7 linked regions of the Homo sapiens genome follow. The protein of the gene in region 6 purifies or fractionates together with the protein of the main gene of each other region. This does not show direct contact. Each region holds a gene or a part of one and is shown on either strand. Other genes may lie near its edges.

What was found.
Region 1: the proteins of MYO9B (region 6) and VSIG4 purify together in Homo sapiens (co-immunoprecipitation; one large-scale study listed by IntAct). This does not show direct contact.
Region 2: the proteins of MYO9B (region 6) and FSD2 purify together in Homo sapiens (co-immunoprecipitation; one large-scale study listed by IntAct). This does not show direct contact.
Region 3: the proteins of MYO9B (region 6) and DCAF8 purify together in Homo sapiens (affinity purification with mass spectrometry; one large-scale study listed by BioGRID and IntAct). This does not show direct contact.
Region 4: the proteins of MYO9B (region 6) and PPM1G purify together in Homo sapiens (affinity purification with mass spectrometry; one large-scale study listed by BioGRID and IntAct). This does not show direct contact.
Region 5: the proteins of MYO9B (region 6) and NAP1L4 purify together in Homo sapiens (affinity purification with mass spectrometry; one large-scale study listed by BioGRID and IntAct). This does not show direct contact.
Region 7: the proteins of MYO9B (region 6) and ECD purify together in Homo sapiens (affinity purification with mass spectrometry; one large-scale study listed by BioGRID and IntAct). This does not show direct contact.

What each region holds. Positions count from the first base shown.
Region 1 is NC_000023.11:66,023,081-66,026,580, reverse strand, and holds part of VSIG4 (V-set and immunoglobulin domain-containing protein 4 isoform 1 precursor), read left to right. Parts: intron 1-1,451; coding exon 1,452-1,556; intron 1,557-3,500. UniProt on the Homo sapiens protein: Phagocytic receptor, strong negative regulator of T-cell proliferation and IL2 production. Potent inhibitor of the alternative complement pathway convertases.
Region 2 is NC_000015.10:82,796,070-82,799,569, reverse strand, and holds part of FSD2 (fibronectin type III and SPRY domain-containing protein 2), read left to right. Parts: intron 1-3,203; exon of another isoform or gene 3,204-3,320; intron 3,321-3,500.
Region 3 is NC_000001.11:160,224,550-160,228,049, reverse strand, and holds part of DCAF8 (DDB1- and CUL4-associated factor 8), read left to right. Parts: intron 1-2,386; coding exon 2,387-2,459; intron 2,460-2,930; coding exon 2,931-2,988; intron 2,989-3,500. UniProt on the Homo sapiens protein: May function as a substrate receptor for CUL4-DDB1 E3 ubiquitin-protein ligase complex.
Region 4 is NC_000002.12:27,383,146-27,385,591, reverse strand, and holds part of PPM1G (protein phosphatase 1G), read left to right. Parts: intron 1-503; coding exon 504-919; intron 920-1,499; coding exon 1,500-1,640; intron 1,641-1,991; coding exon 1,992-2,226; intron 2,227-2,446.
Region 5 is NC_000011.10:2,968,330-2,971,829, forward strand, and holds part of NAP1L4 (nucleosome assembly protein 1-like 4), read right to left. Parts: intron 3,206-3,500; coding exon 3,119-3,205; intron 1,606-3,118; coding exon 1,474-1,605; intron 1-1,473. UniProt on the Homo sapiens protein: Acts as a histone chaperone in nucleosome assembly.
Region 6 is NC_000019.10:17,194,277-17,197,776, forward strand, and holds part of MYO9B (unconventional myosin-IXb), read left to right. Parts: intron 1-279; coding exon 280-1,197; intron 1,198-3,500. UniProt on the Homo sapiens protein: Myosins are actin-based motor molecules with ATPase activity. Unconventional myosins serve in intracellular movements. Binds actin with high affinity both in the absence and presence of ATP and its mechanochemical activity is inhibited by calcium ions.
Region 7 is NC_000010.11:73,161,509-73,165,008, reverse strand, and holds part of ECD (protein ecdysoneless homolog), read left to right. Parts: intron 1-1,058; 5' UTR 1,059-1,071; coding exon 1,072-1,276; intron 1,277-3,500. UniProt on the Homo sapiens protein: Regulator of p53/TP53 stability and function. Inhibits MDM2-mediated degradation of p53/TP53 possibly by cooperating in part with TXNIP. May be involved transcriptional regulation. In vitro has intrinsic transactivation activity enhanced by EP300.

The sequences.
Region 1 (3,500 bases), on a different chromosome or scaffold from region 6:
TGTTTTATGTTCCACATTTGCATTGCCATCTTTGGCTTCAAGATTTCCATAGCTCCGTTCCTCTCCGAGAAGAACATCTACTGGGAGAAGAGAAGTTAGAAATTGCCTCATAGGGAGTTGGTTTGGAAAAATGAGAAAATAACCTTGGGCAAAGTTATTAGATGTTGGGTCTGCGCCCTATTTTCTCTACCAAGTTTTTTAGTACTTGACTCTCTTCAAAAGAGAATATTTCTTCGATTTGTACCAGCTTATAACTTGAGCTCTCTCAGTCCCAACAAGACACTCTGAGGACCACAAATACTGGATTCCTAGGACACGATATCTTAGAGTCTCATGAAAACAAGCCAGTTGCAGCAACAAATCCTAAGTACACTGAGGTTCCTTTCCTCACGCCTCTCTATCCCCCCTGACCTAGCATCTTAGATTCAGAATATTATAGCTAAAAGTGCTTTAGACATCATCCAATCTTTTCATTGAACTTATGGGGTAACTAAGGCCTAGTGACAGTCAAAGTTTTGTCTAAGGTCACTGTATTCATTTTTCCATGGCTGCTGTAAAAACTTACCCCAAACCTAGTATCTTAAAACAGCATAAATATATTATCTTCCACTTCTGGAAATAAGTCTGACACAATTATCACTGAGCTAAAATCAAAATGTCAGTCAGCAAGGCTATGTTCCCTTTGGAGGGTTTGGAGAAGAATTAATTTCCTTGTCTTTCTTTTCTGGCTTCTAGAAGCTACCCACGTTCTTTGGCTCATGGCCCCCTTCCTCCATTTTCAAAACTAACAATGTAGCATTCTCAAATCTCTGTTCCTTTTTACTATGTAAACTAACATACTGACAGGTTCCAGGAATTTGGATGTGAATATCTTTAGAGGACCATTATTCTGCCTACCATAGTCATACAGAAAGTAAATAACAGATCTAGGACTGGAAGCCAAGTCCAGTTGATTCTTTCAGCTTTTAGGCATAATGGGAATATGTGTCTCAAGTGGCTCAGTGGAAATATGTTTTGAGAAAGAAGGAAGCTGGGGACTTGACCAGAGCGTGTGATGGGAAGAATCTTTGTGGCTAGAAGTAACTGACCAGAATCTTAATAAGGTATGTAGCATTTTTGGTGAAGCTGGAAAGTCAGGATATTATTTTCTTTTTTCTAAGGGAAGGTGAAAACCTTCTGTCTTGGCCCTATAGAAAGCATAGACAACTAGCTCAAATGCCCAGGCCAATCAGCCCACCAGTGAGTCTGGAAGAACCTGTTTACACATGGCATCTCTTTCTCAAGTCTTTCTCATGGGACTGGAGTTTTTTCTCTCTGGCTAGCTAAGAAGGTTAGGAGAATATGGAAAATGAAAAAGAAAAAGGCCTGGCTTAGTCTAGGCTGTTTCTTAGAGTTTTTGTTTCTGGCCTTATTTTCAATCAAATACCACTTGATCTTGTTTTACCCTCTAGGAAAGAGCCTGCCTGTCTTTGCCATCATCCTCATCATCTCCTTGTGCTGTATGGTGGTTTTTACCATGGCCTATATCATGCTCTGTCGGAAGACATCCCAACAAGGTTAGTGATGAATATGAGAAGGTGGCTTTGGCTCATTTGTTCTTTCTGTCAGTATACTTGAGCCTAAATTCTGTATCAGGCATTGTGTTAGGCACTTCAAGAAGCTCCCAGCCTAGTTTGGGAGTTAAGGTTGGGGTGCAGGGAGGCAGATGTTCGAGCAAACAATGGCATAAGACTTACAGAACTAAATGCACTAGGCTTTGGTACTCAGTGAAGTACAGCCATCTTTCTAACGAGTCATCTTGTAATGATGCAAGAGAAGGAGAAGTCACAATCCCTGGCCTCAAGTTGCTCACAATTTATTTAGGAGATTCAAGGTAGAAACATGGAATTTATCAATGACAATACATAGCAATAGAGGCTATGAGCTCAAAAACTAGAGAAGACAATTAATGCTAAAGGGATCCAGAGGAGAAGAGAGTAATTTAAGGCTTGGGTAATTAGCAAGGGATTTCAGAAGGAAGAATATCTTAGACCACATTTTGGAGGATGAAAACAAGTTGTAAGGAGACAGTATTTCAGGAAGAGAGAACTACATCAGCATAGTTGTTAGGGCCTAAAAGACAACTGAGAGTGGGGTCATCAATAAAGAAAATTTCTGTAGATGGGCAACAGGGAAGTACAGTGGGAAATGAAAGCTTATTCCTGATTATAGAAGGCCTTAAATGCCAGGTTAAATAATTTGGACTTTCTTCACTAGGCCTTGCAAGGGCACTAAATTTACCAAATTTTTCAAGCATGGAAGTGGCATAATGACAGCACAGTTGTCAGAGCCATTTAAAAACTATGAACCAACCGAGGAGGAAAAAAATTGGGATGCTTGTTTCTAAAAGAAAAAAATACTAGCTGTCTCTCAATGCCCAGTGCACTAGTCATGTTGCCTAGCATCAATTTGTCTTATTCTCTGTAGTATCTCTTACTCCCAAATAGCCTGGTTACTACCATGGATCTGATGGATTTCCATCACCAGAAGGGAGCCTTGAGTATCTCCTTCTCCCAGGTTTCAATTATAAGCTCTGGCTTTTGCCAGTTAGCATGTTTATCACCATGAGGCTGAACTTGATAGCACATGACTACAAACCCCAGGGGCACTAAAATGAAAGCATTTGCATATAGCCTTGATGAGGCTGGGCATAAGCGGTAACCACATTAAATTGTTTCTCTCTCAAAAACCTTCCATGGCTTCTTATGGCCCAGGGGATAAAGGTCAAAATGTAGCATTCTATTCAAGGCTCTCTGTGATGTGGGTCTAGCCAATTTTCTCAACCCACCACTTCCTTATACCTAGTCTCATTTCCAAAAATTCCTCTTTCCTATCTCTGTATAAGGGAGACAGCCTCAGAGCATCAATTTAATTTAACATAATTACTGAGCACCTATTGTGTGACAGGTGCTGAGCATATTAAGATGAAAAAGACACGACCCTTGCGGTACAGGTGCTCATAGGCCAATGGGCGAGTAAGACACAGAAATGCAGGGCTCTACCATAAGGCAGAAGTCCTGTGGCTTCCCTTGTTTACTTTGTTGTCATTTAATGCTTGCATTTCCAGTTGCATCCCTGAAAAATTATAAGCACCTAGAGGGCAGTACAAAGAAATATCTGTCTTTGCACCAACCTAAGCCTTTGAGCCTGTACGGAATATAGGACACTCCTCCTCCACAGACACTAGGGGGCAATGGTAACCAATACCATGGTTTTTCCTGGGTATATAGTGGGGGTGAGTGCATTTGGGAATGTCTTGGGTCACGGCCATCAGCATCAGGCTAATCCAGTCCCTTCTTCCTGGTATGTGGCCTGACAGTCAAGTTTCCCACAAGGACTCTCTGGGGATCCTTGGGGGAGATTCCTGGGTAAAGAGCAAGTCCAGTTCTAGTGCCCTCCCCCAACCCATACCGAGAAACTGCTCCAGCCCAATATCCTGAGTCCAAGATGACAAAAAGGAT
Region 2 (3,500 bases), on a different chromosome or scaffold from region 6:
GCTGCTCAAGACAGCAGCTGCACCTCTGAGCCTCTGCCTCTGCATGGGGCACAGGTTAGAGCCAGAGACATGGATTTGGAGCCCTCAGAAAAGACGGGGACATAGAAGCTGTGAGACTGGATGAGATCACCTAGAGCAAGTGGAGAGTGGGAAGAGGGCCTAGAATGGAGGTTAAGGGGATGCCTGCATATAAAGAGCAGCCAAGGGGAGGAACTTGGCAGAGATTTCAGCAGTCAGTGGCCTAGGGGAAATCCCAGCTGAGCCGGGGGACACAGAAGGGTCAATAGGATTGAATGGCATGGAGCAGTCAGGAGAGCACCAGACAGGGTCCATGAATTTCCAAATTAGGCCATGAGAAAATGTTATATTAAAAGGGCAATCAAAAGTGGAGATAGGCCAGGCGCATTGGCTCACACCTGTAATCCCAACATTTTGGGAGACCAAGGCGGGAGGATTGCTTAAGCAGGAGTTTGAGACCAGCCTGGGCAACATAGTGAGACCGTGTCTCTACAAAAATTACAAAAATTAGCCAGGCGTGGTGGTGCATGCCTGTGATCCCATCTGCTCAGGAGGCTGAGGTGGGAGGATTGTTTGAGCCCAGAAGGTCAAGGCTGCAGTGAGCTGAGATTTCACCACTGTGCTCCAACCTGGGCAACAGAGCAAGACCCTGTCTCAAAAAAAAAAAAAAAAACAAAACAGTGGAGATAGTGGAAAGAAAACTTAATGCCTTTTTAAAAATATAGTTTGGGAAGTGGCTATTAAAAGGACAGTCTATCAGCAGAAGTGACAGTCTATCACTGCAGAAAGTTAAACAGAGCTGATAGGGGAAGCCGACGAACTTGTTGACTTCTGTTTTCTGTGTACAACTGTGGAACAAATAGGGAAGACAAACAGCTGGCTGCTAACTTTGATCACATAAATGGAAGTTAAGGAAAACTGGATCATAAAAGTGATGGATAAGGAAAAAACAGTGCTAAACCATATCTTAAAATATTTTGCTTATTTTTCTCAAAACATTATATATATATGTCATGTTAAAATAGTTTAATAATATTAGTTTTTTTAAAAAAAGACATTAGATTTACCACAATTTTTTAATGGGGGTAGGCATTAGGAACTGGATTGTGATGATGGCTGCACAATTTGGGGAATTTACTAAAAATCATTGAATTGTGCACTTAAAACATGAATTTTCTTCCTTTCGTTCTTTCTTCCTTTCTATCTTCTGACAGGGTCTTGCTCTGTCACCCAGGCTGGAGTGCAGTGGCAAGATAATAGCTCACTGCAGCCTCAATCTTCCAAGCTAAAGTGATCCTCCCACCTTAGCATCCCGAGTAGCTGGGACTGCAGGCACACACCACCACGCTGGGCTAGTTTTGTTTTTTGATTTTTAAATAGAGGTGAGGTTTCTTTTTGTTGCCCAGGCTGGTCTCGAACTCCTAAGCTCAAGTGGTCCTCCCACCTTTGCCTCCCAAAGTGCTTGGATAACGGGTGTCAGCCACTGTACCTGACCTGTAATATTTTTCTGTGCTTGGAAAGTCTTTTGTTGGTCATCTATGATACTTCTCTACAAAAATACAGATGTATAACTTGAGATGAAAGATTTTCTCTTGTTCTCCTGGGACCATACATCTCTGAATATTAAACTCTTTTTTTCTTTTGGATGAAGTTACCAATACAACTTTTAATCACATGTAAGCAAAATAACATAAACATATTACAAATTTTGGTAAATAATAATAATTATTATTGTTATTTTTGAGATGGAGTCTCGCTCTGTCGCCCAGGCTGGAGTGCAGTGGCGTGATCTTGGCTCACTGCAACCTCCGCCTCCCAGGTTCACGCCATTCTCCTGCCTCAGCCTCCCAAGTAGCTGGGACTACAGGCGCCCGCCACCACGCCCGGCTAATTTTTTGTATTTTTAGTAGAGATGGGGTTTCACCGTGTTAGCCAGGACGGTTTCGATCTCCTGACCTCATGATCTGCCCGCCTCGGCCTCCCAAAGTGTTGGGATTACAGGCGTGAGCCACCACGCCTGGCCAATAATTGTTAAATGAAAAATAAAATGGAAATGCATCTCTTAATGAGGTAGATGGAGCTTTTTTAAAAAAAGTTTATTTGTGTATCCATTGATGAAAATTACATATTTTAGACTGCAACAGGAATTAGGGTCAATTGTCTTTCCGCTTTTCATTTTGTTGATGTAAGAACAGAGCAACCTTGCTTAGCTACGTAATCAAACATTGATGGAAATGAAAGTGTTTTATTATAGCAATGTCACTCACATTTTTGAACTCTTTCTGAAATGTGTTTCAAAAAGTACATAGTGATCTATCATGAAAAATTATTTTTAATCATATATTAGCTGACAATTTGATTAGATCCTCCTTCAACTTTATTGAAAGCAAAGAACTGGAAACCACTTAGCTTGAAAACAAATTTTTTCTTATGCATTCATTAATGTCATTCACCCTCCACCATTGATAGCAATACTTCAAATTGTCCTTCCATTTAGTCCCCTGGAGGTGTTTTTTTTTTTTTTTTTTTTTAATTACCAAGCAATGAAATCTTACAGTGCAATGAAATATTCAGGATAAGTGAGAGGTATAGTTTTACTTTTGTAATAAAGAGAAAAAGGACTATTGTGAAAAAAGAATCTACATGAAGCCTCAAATGCTAGTTCCTTCCCAGGCAGAGCAGCTCTGGGAAAGATTAAATATAAAGTTGAGCATCTGGGAGCTGATCCTCCTGAAGCTATCTATACCATGTACCCCTTGGAAAGTCTTCGCATACAGATTCCATAGCCTGAAGAGTGATGGTGGAAATGCCACCCTTTGATGGAGTCTGGAGAGGGAAAGGGGAGAAAGAGAGAATAGCAGCTAGCAGAGAAAGCTGGGTGGAAAGTTTATTTTTAGTCTGGGACAATGAACTAGTCATCTATTGTGGCATAACAAATTATTTCAAAACTTGACAGCTTAAAACAACAAATATTTATTCTCTTGAATCGTTTCTGAGGGTCAAGAACCTGAGAACAGTTCGTCTGGGTGATTGTGGCTCAGAGTCTCTCATGAGGCCTGGTGACCACTTTCCGTTGGTTCTCCTAATACGTCTTATGCCCGCAGCAATGCTGCCAACTTCTTCAGCTCACCTGCCAGCCAACCTTGGTTCACCTGTGTTTCCATATGTTTTTCTTGCTTTTACAGCCACTGGGGACCAGCTCTGGCCAGGACAATTCCGTTTGCCATGATGTGGGTTGAAATCACAACTTCTCCCGGGCGCAGTGGCTCACGCCTCTAATCCCAGCACTTTGGGAGGCCAAGGTGGGTGGATCACAAAGTCAGGAGTTTGAGACCAGCCTGGACAACATGGTGAAACCCCGTCTCTACTAAAAAATACAAAAATTAGCTGGATGTGGTTGCGGATGCCTGTAATCCCAGCTACTTGGGAGGCTGAGTCAGGAGAATCACTTGAAACCAGAAGGCGGTGGTTGAGTGAGCAGA
Region 3 (3,500 bases), on a different chromosome or scaffold from region 6:
GTGTGGTGGTATGCTCCTGTAGTCCCAACTACTTGGGAGGCAGAGGAGGATCTCTTGAGCCCAGGAGTTTGAGGCTACAGTGAGCTGTGATTACACCACTGCACTCCATCCTGGATGACAGAGTGAGACCCTGTCTCAAAAAAAATAACTAAAAGTAAAATATAAACTATCAAGGGCCTATCATATGTTCAGAAAGTGGTAGGAAAGTTTGTATTAATCTTTCTATGCTTACTGTCTATCACAGGGCTTGACAAACTGTAGTGCTTGTTTTTATAAATAAAGTTTTATTGGAACACAGCCATGGCCTTACTTTACATGTTGTTTATGACCACTTTCATGCTACAATGGCAGAATTCAATAGTTTTAATAGAGATTAGATGGTTTGCCAGTTTACCAGCTTAAAACATTTACTGTCTTGTCCTTTAAGAAAAAGTTTGCCAAACTCCGTTCTAGCATCATATGTAGAATATAGTAAGCTATTAATAAACACTTAGTTGGGGTGTAGTGGCTTATACCTGTAATCCCAGCACTTTGGGAGGCTGAGGCAGGAGAATCTTTTGAGGCCAGGAGTTTGAGACCAAGCTGGGCAGATGCTGTCTCCACCAAAAAATAAAAATATTAGCTCAGCATGGTGGTGTGTGCCTGTAGTCCCAGCTACGCGGCAGGTTGAGGCGGGAGGATCGTGTGAGCTGGGGATGTCAAGGCTTAAGTCATCAGTAACCTAACTGCCAAAGCAAACAAAGTACTTTTCAAGTCTTTTTCTCTACTCTTGACATTATTACTCCTTCCCTGAAGCACCTTCTCTCCTTGATGTCCAACCACTCCTCAGTGTTGTTCATGGGTGTGTCTTCCTTTCTCCACCCATTAAATGCTGATGTTCTCCAGTAGCTCAGTCTTCAGCTCTCATCTTACTCTATACCAGGGAATTTTAACTTGAAGTACAAATATTATGTGAACCTCCAGAAAGTATGCTTATGTGCATTTTTCTGGGGAGAAGGGACTAGAGTTTTCATTATATTCTGAAACAGGCCAGAGATTCTAAAGGGCGAAGGGAAAATCTTCTCTGTATTTTCCCTTGGAGATCTAATTCCATTACCAATGCTTTAACTACCACCTTTCACACGGATATATGACTTACATCTGTGTCTGCAGACCACACTTATTCTGAACTCTAGACTTACACCTACTTAACAAATGGATATAATTAACTGATGACTTCAGCCAGAGAAGTCTCAGTGGTGAGTTGAGAACCAAAACCAGATTAGGATGGACTGAGAAGTGAATAGGAAGTAAGAAAGTGGAAATATTGAATGTTGATTGTTCTTTTCAGTAGTGTAACTGTAAGGGGAAGGAGAAAAAAAGCAATAGTAGGAAAGGACAGTCAGCAGAAGGATTTTTAGAAAGTGGCCAGCTGGTGATGAGGAAGAGGTTGAGAAATTAGATAATCATCAAACAAGGTCCCTGGAAGGATGAAATGAAAAGCATTTTTCAAGAGATTGGCTCTGAGATTGGAGGAGACTGGGTGAGAACAGATACTGGATCTGTCTTGTTCCTCACTGTATTTCTAGCACCTAGCATAATATTTGACACATAATATGTGTGTCCTCATGAGTTTAAAGCTTGGATTAGAGAGAGGAAGGAAGGTGAAGGTGTAGTGTGCTTGATAAGAATGAGGAAAGGAGAGGGAGTCTTGAGGATATGGGTGGTAGTTTTTAATAATTATTGTGGGGTATGAGAGGGAGAACAGGCCAAATACAGTTTTAAGGAGGGATTACAGACCCATTGACTTACATTAAGCATGGTTTCTGCCCGTGAGTAACCTTTTTCGGTAGGTAATGTACATGTAAAAAGCTCCATACTAATGTTAGTTGTTTCAGTGAAAAGTAGCAGTATGTGATATAAAACTTGAGGAGAGAGATAAACCACTTCAAACTGACAGAATTGAGGATTGCCACTTAAAATGGGAAGTATGTGGATAAAGGATTTAAGGGTTTGCCTGGCCAACAGATGAAACTCTGTCTCTACTAAAAATACAAAAATTGGCCGGGCGTGGTGGTGTGTGCCCATAGTCCCAGCTATTTAGGAGGCTGAGGCAAGAGAATTGCTTGAACCCATGAGGCGGAGGTTGCAGTGAGCCGGGGTCATGCCACTGCACTACAGCCTGGGTGACAGAGCAGGACCCCATCTCAAACAAACAAAAGATTTAGGGTTTGGAAATGGATTGGAAAAGGGATGCCCTTTAAGGAAGAGCACAAACCAAAAGCTTGGTTTGGAAAATGTTGTTTATCTGCATCCAGCTGGCAGTTTCCTGCCACTACATCAAATTGCAGCTCTTCAAGGGTTTCGTTTGTACATTTTTACATTTTCATTGCTTTTCCAACTGTAGGATTTATGACCAGAGGAAAATTGATGAGAATGAGAACAATGGAGTACTCAAGAAGTTCTGTCCTCATCACCTGGTAAGATTCATGAAGGGCCAGTTGCTGCAGGCTTCCCTGACTCAACCCCAAGGCTGCACCTGAACTTGTTGGTATGGTGGGAAGAGCTTGGACTTTCAAGTCAGTCATCTGGATTTGAATCCTGGCTTTACCACTTACCAGCTTTGTGATCTTGGCAGTCACTTCACTTCTGATAGCCTCAGTTTTTTAATCGACAAAATAGAAATAAAAATAACTGCCTTGCACCTTGATGGTGAGGCCTAATGAGACAGTGTACATAAAATGGCTAGCACATGGATGACAACCAAAAGAAAGCCCCAAGATGCTACCCCCTGAGGTGGTCATGTTTCATCAGTTGTACTCTTGTCTCTGTCTGTCTTTCTCAAATCTCTGGGAGAAGATATAGGGGAGTTTGAAGGAAAAGCTGTTTCCTGAAGATGGTATAACAAATGGGGGGGTGGGGCATCAGTCAGTATCTGCTCCTTATTGCAGGTGAACAGTGAGTCCAAAGCAAACATCACCTGTCTTGTGTACAGCCACGACGGCACAGGTACGTGAGCAGGGCCCAGCTCCTAGGCTGGCATGCCCCCTCTGTCTAGGGAGCTGCTGAGCCAGTGAGGCATGTGCCCTCCAGTGCTCACCACTGTGCTATAGCTCCAAGTAGAGCAGCTGGGGAGTAACTGCTGATGGTGAGCACATAGCGGGAGGATACAGTAGATGACCCTTGGAGATGCCAGGTACCATTTGCAGAATGCTGCAGATGATATTTGGCAGGGCCTGTCCTGAAGCCCAGGTTGCTTGCCTGAGCAGGTTCTTATGCCTTTGACTCATTCCTGAGTTAATGGGTATGACCTTTTTGAGCATTCTGCTGCCCCTGGGTTGGCAGTGTGTTCTTAGTCTACCCTGTACAGTCGGACTTGCCTGGTGTTCCAAATAAGATGGGTGCTACACCTGGGTATTTGGAGGGGGCACTACTGGCAAGAAGCCCCACCCCAACCCCCACCTCCTGGTCCCTGCTTTTTTCAGCCTTTGCCTTCACTGCTATGTTCTTGTTCTTGGCAG
Region 4 (2,446 bases), on a different chromosome or scaffold from region 6:
TGAAAAGGAGGGAGAGAATTATCTTCGTTGAGTGGCATCTGAGCTGTAAGCATTGTATATACATTATCTTTTGTCATTGTGATGGGGTCTTCCTGGTTCCTGCTAGTATTTATGTGCTTTTTTTTCCCCTCAAGACTGGAGCAGTTATTAGCCCCAATAGCCAATCATTAAGCCTAAATCCTAATTCACAGTAGCATTGTGGGCTTCCTGGATCCTCAGCCAGAATAGGGTTTTTACAACTTAACAATAAAAAATGAGACGTCAGAGGGGAAGTATAGTAACTAGTGTTGTTTTGATTAAGAAGGGGATGAAACACAAAAACCAAAAGAAGTCTGTGGAGGAGGAGGAGCTAGGGCATGTTCTTCTGAGACTTGAGCGAGAGGAACCTTGGGAGTGGGAGGTTGTGGGGAAGTTAGAGGCTGCAAGGGCTGTTGAGGTAGTGAGAGGGACGGATCCCATGAGGAGTCTGGCATGGGGGCTCTGATTTAGCCTCTTCCCTGCAGTGGACAATGAGGAGGCTGCACTGCTGCATGAAGAGGCTACCATGACTATTGAAGAGCTGCTGACACGCTACGGGCAGAACTGTCACAAGGGCCCTCCCCACAGCAAATCTGGAGGTGGGACAGGCGAGGAACCAGGGTCCCAGGGCCTCAATGGGGAGGCAGGACCTGAGGACTCAACTAGGGAAACTCCTTCACAAGAAAATGGCCCCACAGCCAAGGCCTACACAGGCTTTTCCTCCAACTCGGAACGTGGGACTGAGGCAGGCCAAGTTGGTGAGCCTGGCATTCCCACTGGTGAGGCTGGGCCTTCCTGCTCTTCAGCCTCTGACAAGCTGCCTCGAGTTGCTAAGTCCAAGTTCTTTGAGGACAGTGAGGATGAGTCAGATGAGGCGGAGGAAGAAGAGGAAGACAGTGAGGTAAGGGCCTGTGAGGGCAGGCAGATGCTGAAGTTGCAGAGAGGTCCTGTTTGGTTGCCGTCTGTAGTTTTCAACTCTCTTTCCTTCTCCTATTTTGACATCATCCCCCAAGACCCACTGTATTCTAAGCTTTAGTCTTGAATTCATTGAGCTCCATCATCACAGGTACCATTTGCCTTTTTACCTCTTCCTTTGTTGGTACTATAACAAGCAGATCTAGTTCTGGCTTTTCAGAGTCTGTCTCCTAGAGAGAGAACAAGGAGATAGTTGTTACCTTGGCTAGTTGACTGTTTTCTTCTCTGGAAAATTTATTTTCTGGCCACAGTGCCTGAAAGATATTTTTGGCTGGCAGCCCTTGCCTTGTCCTGGGCTTTTTGCTAGTGACTGCTAAGCCCAGTTCAGGATGTCAGTTGTACTCATGCTAGCCCTTTCCATCCCCCCAATTTTCATGACCATATACTTGTATCTTTCAGTGTTTTGAGGACCTGTGTTCAGTCAGGACCTCTTGATTCTGAGTATGAGCTGTGGGGAGGGAGGGGATCATCCCAGTCTCAGCAGTCTGGGATCCTCCCCCTGGCAGGAATGCAGCGAGGAAGAGGATGGCTACAGCAGTGAGGAGGCAGAGAATGAGGAAGATGAGGATGACACCGAGGAGGCTGAAGAGGACGATGAAGAAGAAGAAGAAGAGATGATGGTGCCAGGGATGGAAGGCAAAGAGGAGGTGTGTGGGGAAGGGGAGCAATGAGTCTTGAAAAGCCACAAGGCAGGTGTGAATCCCCTAATTTTGATTTTGAGACAGGGGATCCCCCTGATACTTTAGGATGGAAGTAATAGTCATGGGGATTTATTCTGCAAGGGGAATGAGATGGTAAGCCTTTGGGGTTGAATTATCTAAAAACAAGGGAGAGGGAGTGTGCTGCTGTCTCTAGAAAGATGAAATGTGTGCTTCTCCTGTTTGTTAAAGCTCTTTTGGGGGTCCCAGTGAAAGCAAGCATAGGTGAACGATCAGGAGCACATCAGTGAGGAACGCATGTTCAGAAGCCCCCATGATGCTCCTTTTCTTCCTCTTAAGCCTGGCTCTGACAGTGGTACAACAGCGGTGGTGGCCCTGATACGAGGGAAGCAGTTGATTGTAGCCAACGCAGGAGACTCTCGCTGTGTGGTATCTGAGGCTGGCAAAGCTTTAGACATGTCCTATGATCACAAACCAGAGGATGAAGTAGAACTAGCACGCATCAAGAATGCTGGTGGCAAGGTCACCATGGATGGGCGAGTCAACGGGGGCCTCAACCTCTCCAGAGCCATTGGTAAGGGCCAAGAAACTGGGAAAGACTTCTAGGGTCTTTCTCTCTGTCCCAGACTACCTAGTAGCAAACTTTAATCTTCCTAGTGCTTGTGCCTTTCAAAGCACTTTAATATCTACTACCTCTGTTCTTATATTTCTGTGAAATAACTAAGATGGGTAGAGGTATCATTATACATAGGTATCATTATACCCATCTTATGTAACATTTGAATGATGAAAAA
Region 5 (3,500 bases), on a different chromosome or scaffold from region 6:
CACAGGGTGAGACTACGGCTCTGGTAGACATTACTTAATTTTTCCAATGAAATTCTGGTGCATGGCATTCTTTTAAAAGTATGGTCTAGTCTTCTTAAATTCCACCTTTTCATATGAAAAGGAAGCTCAGATCAGGAAAAACCAAGGCTGTTCTATTTTAGATGCTTTCTGGTCTGGAAGGAGAATAAGAAATACATCATTCTTTCCATCTTTTCTCAAGTTTTGGCTTAGGACACAGGACAAGCATTAAACAAGGGAGGTAGCAGAGGCAGCAATGTGATACATTTGTGAAAACCATTAAAAACCGTAGCTGTAAAATCCTGTGCAAATTACAATGTAGCAGTTTGCAACGCACAGTGCCTATGCTCTGTGATGGGAGAAGCACTCTGCCCACACAAGCAGAGCCTGCAGCTGTCCTGAGCAAGTCTGAATGCAGACGTGCTGTTTCTGGGGACGCTGGAGCAATAAAAACTGACGGCAAGTCAGTCAGTGAGACTTAAGGCAAGATTTGTTTCTCTGTTCTAGAAACTTCTATTATAACTCATTTCAGGGAAAACCAAATTTGTTACCTTTTAATTTGTTCACCATTTCACTACAGAAAGTGAAATGTCAAGGCAAGACAAAATCAGAAATGGTGGTTGGGTTTTGTTGTTGTGTTGTTTTTTTTTTTTTTTTTTTTTGGAGACAGGGTCTCGTCACCCACCAGGATGGAGTGCAGCACCGTGATCACAGCTCACCACAGCCTCAACCTCCTCGGCTCAGGTGATCCTCCTGCCTCAGCCTCCCAAGTACCTGGGACCACAGGCGCACACCACAACGCCCAGCTAACTTTTCTATTTTTTGTAGAGATGGGATTTCGCGATGCTGCCCAGGCTGGTCTCAAACGATCTGCCTACCTTGACCTCCCAAAGTGCTGGGACTACAGACATGAGCCACCATGCCTGGCCTCTTTTTTTAAAAAAAATAGACACTTTTTCAAGAGAAATGATCAGAAAATATTAGCAACTTGTTCAAAAATTCACTGAGATGTGTGTGTACACACACACACACAAACAAACACACAGCTCATCCCTTCAAAATTCATTCTGCTCTGGTCTCCTGCCCTCACCCTTTCCTGCACACTCACACCACAGGAAGACAGAGATGGGCTCTGGAATCTATTCATAGGCTTTCCCACAGGCAAGACAACAGAGCTTTACAAGAGGTAAAAGGAACTGATTTGAAAGTTTTGGATCAGGCTGAAGCGCCCAGCTTTCCACCAAGAACTGCAAAAGACAGCATGGAAGCCCCACTGTGAATAAACCATTCACTGTGAGATCAGGACTGCTCATCTGAGGTCCTGGTCAGAGAAAGTGCCCTTCCGCCCACTATGAACAATCTTTCAATGCCCAGTGTAGTGCTTAAAAAATGCCATAGATAAGTAATGTTAGAAGACTAGCACATAATCTCTCTACAAGACAGAAGTGTGCTTACCTGGACTAATTCACTCAGCATGTCCACATTTCTGAAGATGGTAAACCAGAACTCTGGAATTCCTTTGGGATCTGGCTCTTCAGCCGTTGCCGCTGCTTTTTCTGTGACGACTACTTTACTTTTCATGTCTCCCTAAAAAAAAGATGCAACATAGGTAACGAAAATAAAAGTTTACAAACAATGCAGCGGCTTCACGTAGAATATCGTTGCCGAATCCTCTACTATCTCCCATCAAACACCTTGCTTTCTAAGTCTGCACCTCCAAACCACTCACTGGGCCACGCGACACTTTTCAGATGCTTCTGAGGAAAAAGCATTCAAGTCATTACATCCACACGGAATTCCGTACCATTTCACATCAAAGGCGAAGAAACTAAAGAGATGACAAAGTGCCACCGACGCTGGGAAAGGCCATCCAGTGCTAGCTCTGTGAGGTGCCATCCTGAGACAATCATCATCACAAATGCAGATGCAAAGACTGTACATCAACCTTAAGGAGATGCAATGCAAATATGCAGAACATCTAGCACTGGGCAAAAAAAGTCCAGTGCAAGGATAAAGAAGTTCACTTGGACTAATAATCTGACCTCTTGTTAAAATTTGTGGGGTGCTAAGTTGAAATAAAAAAAAAAAAAATTGCCGCAGCAGTATCTGCAGCAAGAAAGTGCTCAGCAACTTATCCAGCTTGTAAGGAAGTGGCTATAAATGCCAGCTCAGACACCACGCAAGCATCAGAAAGTGACCAGAAAGGCCACATGGCAAAAGGAAGGGGAGTCAGGCCCCAGGGAAAAGGTAGACCAAGGGAGGTGAAACGCAACACCAGATGCAACTATGGGAAATTCTGAATGCCTTGCCAAACGGGATTGTTATGATGAAATGATCTTGAAATGAAAGGCCTTTTAAATCAGCAAAGGCAGATTTCCCTTGAGCTGTTAGAAACTGATTCACAACTGTATTAATCCACAGCCATGGCTTCAATTAGGCCAGGTTCTATATATTTTTAAAGCATCAAAAACACATATGGCTACCAAAATCATCATATACCACCCCCCCCCCAAAAAAAAAACTGCAAAAAGTTAGTTATAGGATAAAAGTTACTTGTCTCCCAAACATAAAATCAGGCTGACAAAGTTAATCCATGGTACACTGGGAGTTTTCACAGCACTGGAATGGGACCAGTCACTAGAAAAAGGCTGTGAGCAGGTGACTGATGGCCACACCACAACCACCATCTGCAACCAATCCACTGGCGGAGCACCTCTCAGGGGGCAAGCTAGTCCATGCCACTGAGCAGGAAGGCACTCCCCTCACAACTCCCCCAATCTTCCAGTGACTGAGAACACAGGGGCATCTCTTCTTCATCTTTGCTTTCTCTGATGTTTTAATCTTTGTTGGTCTGATCCCTTATTTCAATATGCTCCTGTCCACAGATAACTGAGGTGGCACTACATCTTACTCCTATTAACTGACAGTACTGTGTCAGATGCTAGATCCATATCAGAAAGGAATCTAAACCCAACCTAATGATGCAGCAGCACCTACTGTTAGAAGCACATAAGTTTACTAGTCATTAAAAATCATTAAAAAATGCTTATTTTTAACAGTATTAAAACAGAACATGAGTCACATGTTTCTAAAGACTTACAGCCAATTTCTCTTCCTCTTCATTTTCACTGTGCCATTCCGATTCCGCATCTGTTGGTTCAACATCGCCGGTGATAAATTCTCTTCTCTACATAAAAATGAGACCTTATTAGAATTATGTTATTAGCTTACTTAGGAACTCAAGAGTTAAATTTATAAATAATGTCTACTAAAAGACTTTGAAAACTGGATATTTTTATAACTTATTTTAAGATTCTAAATTTTAGGGTTCAAAGAAAAATATTAAATGATTCCCTGGGTAAACCTGGATGTTTCACCTAAAGATGTAAAATAAAGACAGTCCCCGATTTCCAATGGTTCAGCTAAAGATTTTCAACTTCCTGATGGTGCAGAAGCCATCACACTTTGGGCACCAATACAGC
Region 6 (3,500 bases):
AATAGAACCCACCCACCACAGCCCCAACAAGGGTCCTCTCCCCTAACAAGGCAGCCAGGCAGACGCAGGGCAGGGGTATCTGTGACACTGAGGGGGCACCACCCTCAGCCTCCTTTCCTGATCGAGGAGATTCCTGCTTTCCAGAAGCATCTCTCAGGGCCACTGGGCACAGGCGAAGCCCCGTCTGCAGCCCGCAGGCTGGGGGTCCCATCGGAACTCAGTGGGAGGTGGAGGGAGTGTTTGTTTCTGAACCAGCTGTCTGCTTTTTCCTCACTCCAGCTTCAGCCAGATGATCTCGGAGAAGCAGAAGGCAGAAGAGAAGGAGAGGGAAGCCCTGGAAGCCGCAAGAGCAGGTGCTGAGGAGGGCGGACAGGGTCAGGCGGCTGGAGGGCAGCAGGTAGCTGAGCAGGGGCCGGAGCCAGCGGAGGATGGCGGGCACCTGGCATCGGAGCCTGAGGTGCAGCCAAGTGACAGGTCCCCCCTAGAGCACTCCTCACCTGAGAAGGAGGCCCCAAGCCCAGAGAAGACTCTCCCACCCCAGAAAACCGTGGCGGCTGAAAGTCACGAGAAAGTCCCCAGCAGCCGGGAGAAGCGTGAGTCGCGTCGGCAAAGAGGGCTGGAGCACGTCAAGTTCCAGAACAAACACATCCAGTCCTGCAAGGAGGAGAGTGCCCTCAGAGAACCTTCCAGAAGGGTCACCCAGGAGCAAGGGGTGAGTCTCCTGGAAGACAAAAAGGAGAGCAGAGAAGATGAAACCCTTCTAGTCGTAGAGACGGAGGCTGAGAACACATCTCAAAAGCAGCCCACAGAGCAACCCCAGGCCATGGCAGTTGGCAAGGTCTCTGAAGAAACTGAGAAGACGCTGCCCAGTGGGAGCCCCAGGCCTGGCCAGTTGGAGCGGCCGACCAGCCTGGCCCTGGACAGCAGGGTCAGCCCACCGGCCCCTGGCAGCGCCCCCGAGACCCCCGAGGACAAGAGCAAACCATGTGGCAGCCCAAGGGTTCAGGAAAAGCCCGACAGCCCCGGAGGCTCCACGCAGATCCAGCGGTACCTGGACGCCGAGCGGCTGGCCAGCGCCGTGGAACTGTGGCGGGGCAAGAAGCTGGTGGCCGCCGCCAGCCCTAGTGCCATGCTCAGCCAGTCCCTGGACCTCAGCGACAGACACCGGGCCACAGGGGCCGCCCTCACGCCCACAGAGTAAGCCCCACACCCTCTTTTGTCTGAGCACCAGGGTCCAGGCCAGGTGGGCAAGGCCAGGGGCAGTGCCACACATCCTGGAAACACATGTGTAATCATGCCCAGTGGGTGTGCGGGAGGCCTGAGGGAGGAGGACGAGCAGGACATGCTAAAGACCAAGTGAAGACAAGGCAGCCAGCCAGGGCCCAGGCTGGGACCTGGAGCCTTGAGGGGTCCCCAGAAGGAGCTGTGCTCACACAGAAAGGCCCCGGCCTTGAGAGAGGTGGCTCCTCAGGTCAAGGTCCCTGCTGCCCAGAAATCTTGGGCCTTGGTTTCTAATTGGTGAACAGGACTAACTGCACTCCTCGGGGTTAAAGGAGCAGGGGCTTGCTCTGCCTGAGCCTTAGTAAGCCAAGTGTCAGTGACTTGGAATCTCCAGCTCCCTCTTCCAGAGGGCCTGCAGGACCAAAGGAAAGAAATCAGGGAGGAGACAGGCCTTCCCTGCAGCAGGCCTGCTCAGCCTCCCACTGCTCGTATTGGGGGCCAGATCATTCTCTGCGGTGGGGGCTGTCCTGTGTATCATAAGATGTTGAGCAGCATCCCTGGCCTCCACTTACCACATGCCAGGAGTATTATCGATAGATGATGGATGGAGGGAGGGAGGGAGAGAGAGAGAGAGGGAAGGATGTGTGGGTGGGTGGGTGGGTGGGTGGATGGATGGAAGATAGAGATGATGGAAGGATGGATGGAAGGAAGATAGAGATGATGGAGGGATGGATGGATGGAAAATGATAGAGGTGATGAATGGAAGACAGATATAGATGATGGATGGATGGAAGATACACATGATGGATGAAGGGATGGATAGATAGAAGACAGGTAGTAATGATGGATAGAGGCATGGATGGATGGATGATACAGATGATGGGGAGATGGATGGATAGAAGATGGGTAGAAATTAGGCTGGGCGCGATGGCTCATGCCTGTAATCCCAGCATTTTGGGAGGCCAAGAGTTTGAGAGGAGTTCGAGACCAGCCTGGCCAACATAGTGAAACCCTGTCTCTACTAAAAATACAAAAATTAGCTGGGCGTGGTGGCGCATGCTTGTAATCCCAGCTACTTGGGAGGCTGAGACAGGAGAATCGCTTGAACCTGGGAGGCAGAGGTTGCAGTGAGCCGAGATCAAGTCACTGCACTCCAGCCTGGATGACAGAGATGAGACTCCGTCTCAAAAAAAAAAAAAAAGTAGAGATTATGGATAGAAGGAAGATAGATGCCGACGATAGATGGATGGAAGGAAGATAGGTAGGTAGAGACAATGAATGGAGGGATGGAAGATAGGTAGAGATGATGGATGGCTGGGTGGGTGGATGGATGGATGGATGGACAGACAGAAGGATGGGTGGATGGCTGGAAGATAGAGATGGAGAGATGGAAGGAACATAGAGTTGATGGATGGAGGGATGGATAGATGATAGGTAGATTATGGATGGGAGGAAGATAGAGATGATGGAGGGACGGATGGGTAGAAGATAGGTAGAGCCGGGTTCGGGGGCTCACACCTATAATCCCAACACTTTGAGAGGCTGAGGCGGGTGGATCACCTGAGGTCAGGAGTTTGAGACCATCCTGGCCAACGTGGCGAAACCCCGTCTCTACTAAAAATACCAAAAATTAGCTGGATGTGTTGGCGCATGCCTCTAATCCCAGCTACTCGGGAGGCTGAGGCAGGAGAATCACTTGAACCTGGGAGGCAGAGGTTGCAGTGAGCCGAGATCACACCATTGCACTCCAGCCTGGGCAACAAGAGCAAAACTCCGTCTAAAAAAAAAAAAAAGATAGATAGAGATGACAGATGAAGAGATGGATGGAAGGCAGATAAAGAGGATGGATGGGTGGAAGATAGAGACAATGAGTCAATGAGTAGAAGGATGGATGGATGGATAGATAGATGATAGATAGATAGATAGATAGATAGATAGATAGATAGATAGATACATAGATAGATAGATGGGCAGGCAGGCAGGGTCTCTTGGGCTAAGGCAAGGTTTCCTACCCTCCACACTCAACATCTGGGGCTGGCTCACTCTCTGGGGTGGAGACCATTCTCTGTAGGGTATTGAGTAGCATCCCTGCCCTCCACTCACCAGAGGCCAGAAGTACCCACCCACTCCTTTCCCCCCACCCAAGTGGTGACAACCAAAACTGTCTCTAGACATTGCCAAGTGTCCCCTGGCAGGGGCAGAACTGCCCAAGTGAGAACCCAAGAACCACTAAGACAAGAAAATGCCACTGACTCACTCTAGTCAGTAAAAGCCATGTT
Region 7 (3,500 bases), on a different chromosome or scaffold from region 6:
GTAGGTGTTAGTGCAGTGTTTCTCGAAATATATTACACATACCACTGCTAGTACAAGGGCAAACATTAAAAATTTCATTCTTCACTTCCAAAATAGGAAAAATATAAAAAGTAAAGATTTTATTCTTACATACTTACTAATTGGGGAATGTGATACTAGATTTCTATTCACTGTATTATATCAAGGTTTCCTTTTAACGTAATTTTAAAGATAAAGTTTTAAGTGTAAAGGGTCATTAAAAATAATATTAGGCCAGATGCCTATAACCCCAGCACTTTGGGAGACCAAGGTGGAAGAACTGCTTGAGCTCAGAAGTTCTAGGCCAGCCTGGGCAATATGGCAAAACCTTGCCTCTACTAAAAATACAAAAAAAGTTAGCTGGGCATGGTGGCATGCACCTGTGGTCCCAGCTACTTGGGAGGCTGAGGTGGGAGGATGGCTTGAGCCCAAGAGGTGGAGGTTGCAATGAGCTGTGATCATGCCGCTGCACTCCAGCCTGGGCAACAAGAGTGAAACTCCATCTCAAATAAATAAATAAAGTTTAAAAAAATTAAATAAATATTACTGTAGGTGGTGTATGGTTAAGGCCAAAACCATGGTGATGGTATGTGACTAAATTTTATTTTTTTATTTTTTATTTTTATTTATTTTTTTTTTTAGTTGGAGTCTTGCTCTGTCACCCAAGCTGGAGTGCAGTGGCATGATCTCGGCTCATTGCAACCTCTGCCTCCTAGGTTCAAGTGATTCTCCTGCTTTAGCCTCCCAAGTAGCTAGGATCACAGGTGCATGCCACCACACCCAGCTAATTTTTGTATTTTTAGTATTTTGTATTTTTAGTAGAGACGGGGTTTCACCATGTTGGCCAGGCTGGTCTCAAACTCCTGACCTCCAGTGATCTGCCTGTCTCGGCCTCCCAAAGTGATAGGATTACATGCATGAACCACTGTGCCCGGCCTAACTAAATTTTAGAAAACAGTGTTCATAGAACCATCTAAAAGAGTTCAGATGTTACTTCTGCATTGTTCTATGTGGTTTATATTTTGGAACTTTAAACATAGTTTTCAAAGAAGAATGGAAGAAACCATGAAGCTTGCTACGATGGAAGACACAGTGGAGTACTGCCTGTTCCTGATACCAGATGAGTCAAGGGACTCAGATAAACATAAAGAGATTCTTCAGAAGTACATTGAGAGAATAATCACTCGGTTTGCACCTATGCTGGTCCCCTACATCTGGCAGAATCAGCCTTTCAATCTTAAATATAAACCTGGGAAAGGTAAGGCTCTTTTACTTGTTTGGATTAGTGTGACTTTTAATGTTATCCTGACAACAGTGATGTGTAATAGTCCACGCTTCATTCAGTGTTGCCAGGAAGAGATTAATACACTAAACTTTTTAGATGAGTAATACTTGTCTATATTCAGTTAGCCTTAAAGCTTTTTTTTAAAAAAAATCATATTAATGAAAACTTTCTAAATTTGCCTTAGGAATTAGCATATACTAAACATTATTAAACTCATGGCTATTCTTTTGAACTTTAGTTACTACACTATGCCATAATGTATCTAAGTATCTATACTAAATAGTTTCAGGCATCTGGCTTTAATCATGGTTCCTTTTGCTGTTACTCAGGATTCCTTATTTTGGTGATGTGTTTGGTAGGCTGCCTTGTTTCATATAGCCATTTTGGTGAGGATCTGAGTGGCTCTGCCCAGCTTATAAAGATAAATAATTGGGCTTTATGACTAATATTTGCCACTTACAAGCATTTTGAGGTTTCTTCATTGCTTCCCTGTGTTGTTGGTGCTTGAGATCTGACCTCTGGCAAAATATGGCACTCTGTCCTGTTATGAGAAAAACCCAGGATTAAACTAGGAGGGAGCGGAGAGACCAAAGAATGACTCGGACAGGTCTATCTTGGCAAGTAGATGAGTTTATTAGGACTTACAGACAAGACACTCCTGGGCAGCATCAGGACAGCTCTAGAAATCCACCCCACCTCCCATATTTAAGTTGCTAGTAAGCTAATTTTTTGGCTCTTTGCCTACTGCGTATATGCAATGACACTGTTTTCCTTGGTATGTTCCCAGCTATGCCCTGCAATGTTTGGGTTCTCAGGACCTGCTCCTCTGCTAGGCATGATGGCTTTGGCTTGCCAGCTGGCCTTTGAAGTTTAAGCAGCAGACATATACCCTTAAGTAGTCTGGTGGGGAACTGGTCACATTACAGTTCTATCATTTCTTATAGTTTTATGAAAATAAATCATGGGTAGGTGACCAAGTCTCTCCTTACACAGTGACTTATGTGAGGTCTTATTTGGGATCAGGAGCCTGGCATCTTGTGATACCATCACAAGATATACCCCCCATGTATACATCACAAGTATACATCACTGTGATACTCTCAGTTTAGTGCGTATCTGTTATCTTTTGGCAACAATTGCTACATATCTTACTGTTAATTTTATTGAACTCTTATTCATTGAAATACATATGATATTTATTGGCAAGAACACTGTCACATTGGTGTAGCACATCTAAAACCAACCCTTTATCCATCCTCTAGAAAACCATTTTTACTGTTTTCTTATCTTGTTTAATGGCATTGCCATCCACCCAGTTATCCAAGCTAGTCAGTAATTCAAAATCATAATCAGTTCCTCACTTCACCATGTTCAGTCAGATGCTAAATCCTGAATGCTTCTAAAATATGACCCCTTCTCTACATCTATTTGGCTTCAGTGTAGACCCTCTTTATCTCTACATCTGGAAAACAACAACAGCCTCCTAACTTACCTCTCTGGTTCCTGTCTTTCTAGTTCCTAACACTGTTGCTGGTTATGTTTGTAAAACACAAATTTGATTGTGTCACTCTCCTGCTTAATATCCTTCAGTAGTTCCCATTGCTTCAAGATGAAATTTAAATCAAAGTCTAATATAGACAAAAATAGTTACTTTAATTGGAGTTCTCTAGTTGAAGAAACTTGAGATCTGGGGTGGGGAGAAGAAGAGTTGGTTGGGCTGTTCTTCTACCTATTGTTTGCCATGGCAGCTCTTGAGACACTCTGTAATGCACTTGTTTGACCTTCATTCTGTTAATGTGGGATATTAACTGTACATTGATTTTCGTGTGTTGAACCATCCTTGCATCCCAGGAATAAATCTCGCTTGGTCGTGGTGAATAATCTATTTAATGTGTTGTTGAATTCAGATTGCTGATATTTTGTTAAGGATTTCTGCATTGATACTCATCAGGGATATTGATCTACAGCTTTCTCATATTGTCTTTGTCTGGCTTTGGTATTAGGGTAATGCTGGCCTCAGAAGGAATTTGGGAATTCCCTCCCTTTTATTTTTTTGGAAGATTTTGAGGAGGATTGGTGTCAAATTCTTTAAATGTTTGGAAGAATTCCCCGGTGAAGCCAGCTTTTCTTTGTTAGGAGCTTTTGGATTATTGATTCAATCTCCTTACTAGTTATAGATCTGTTCAGATTTTTGTAT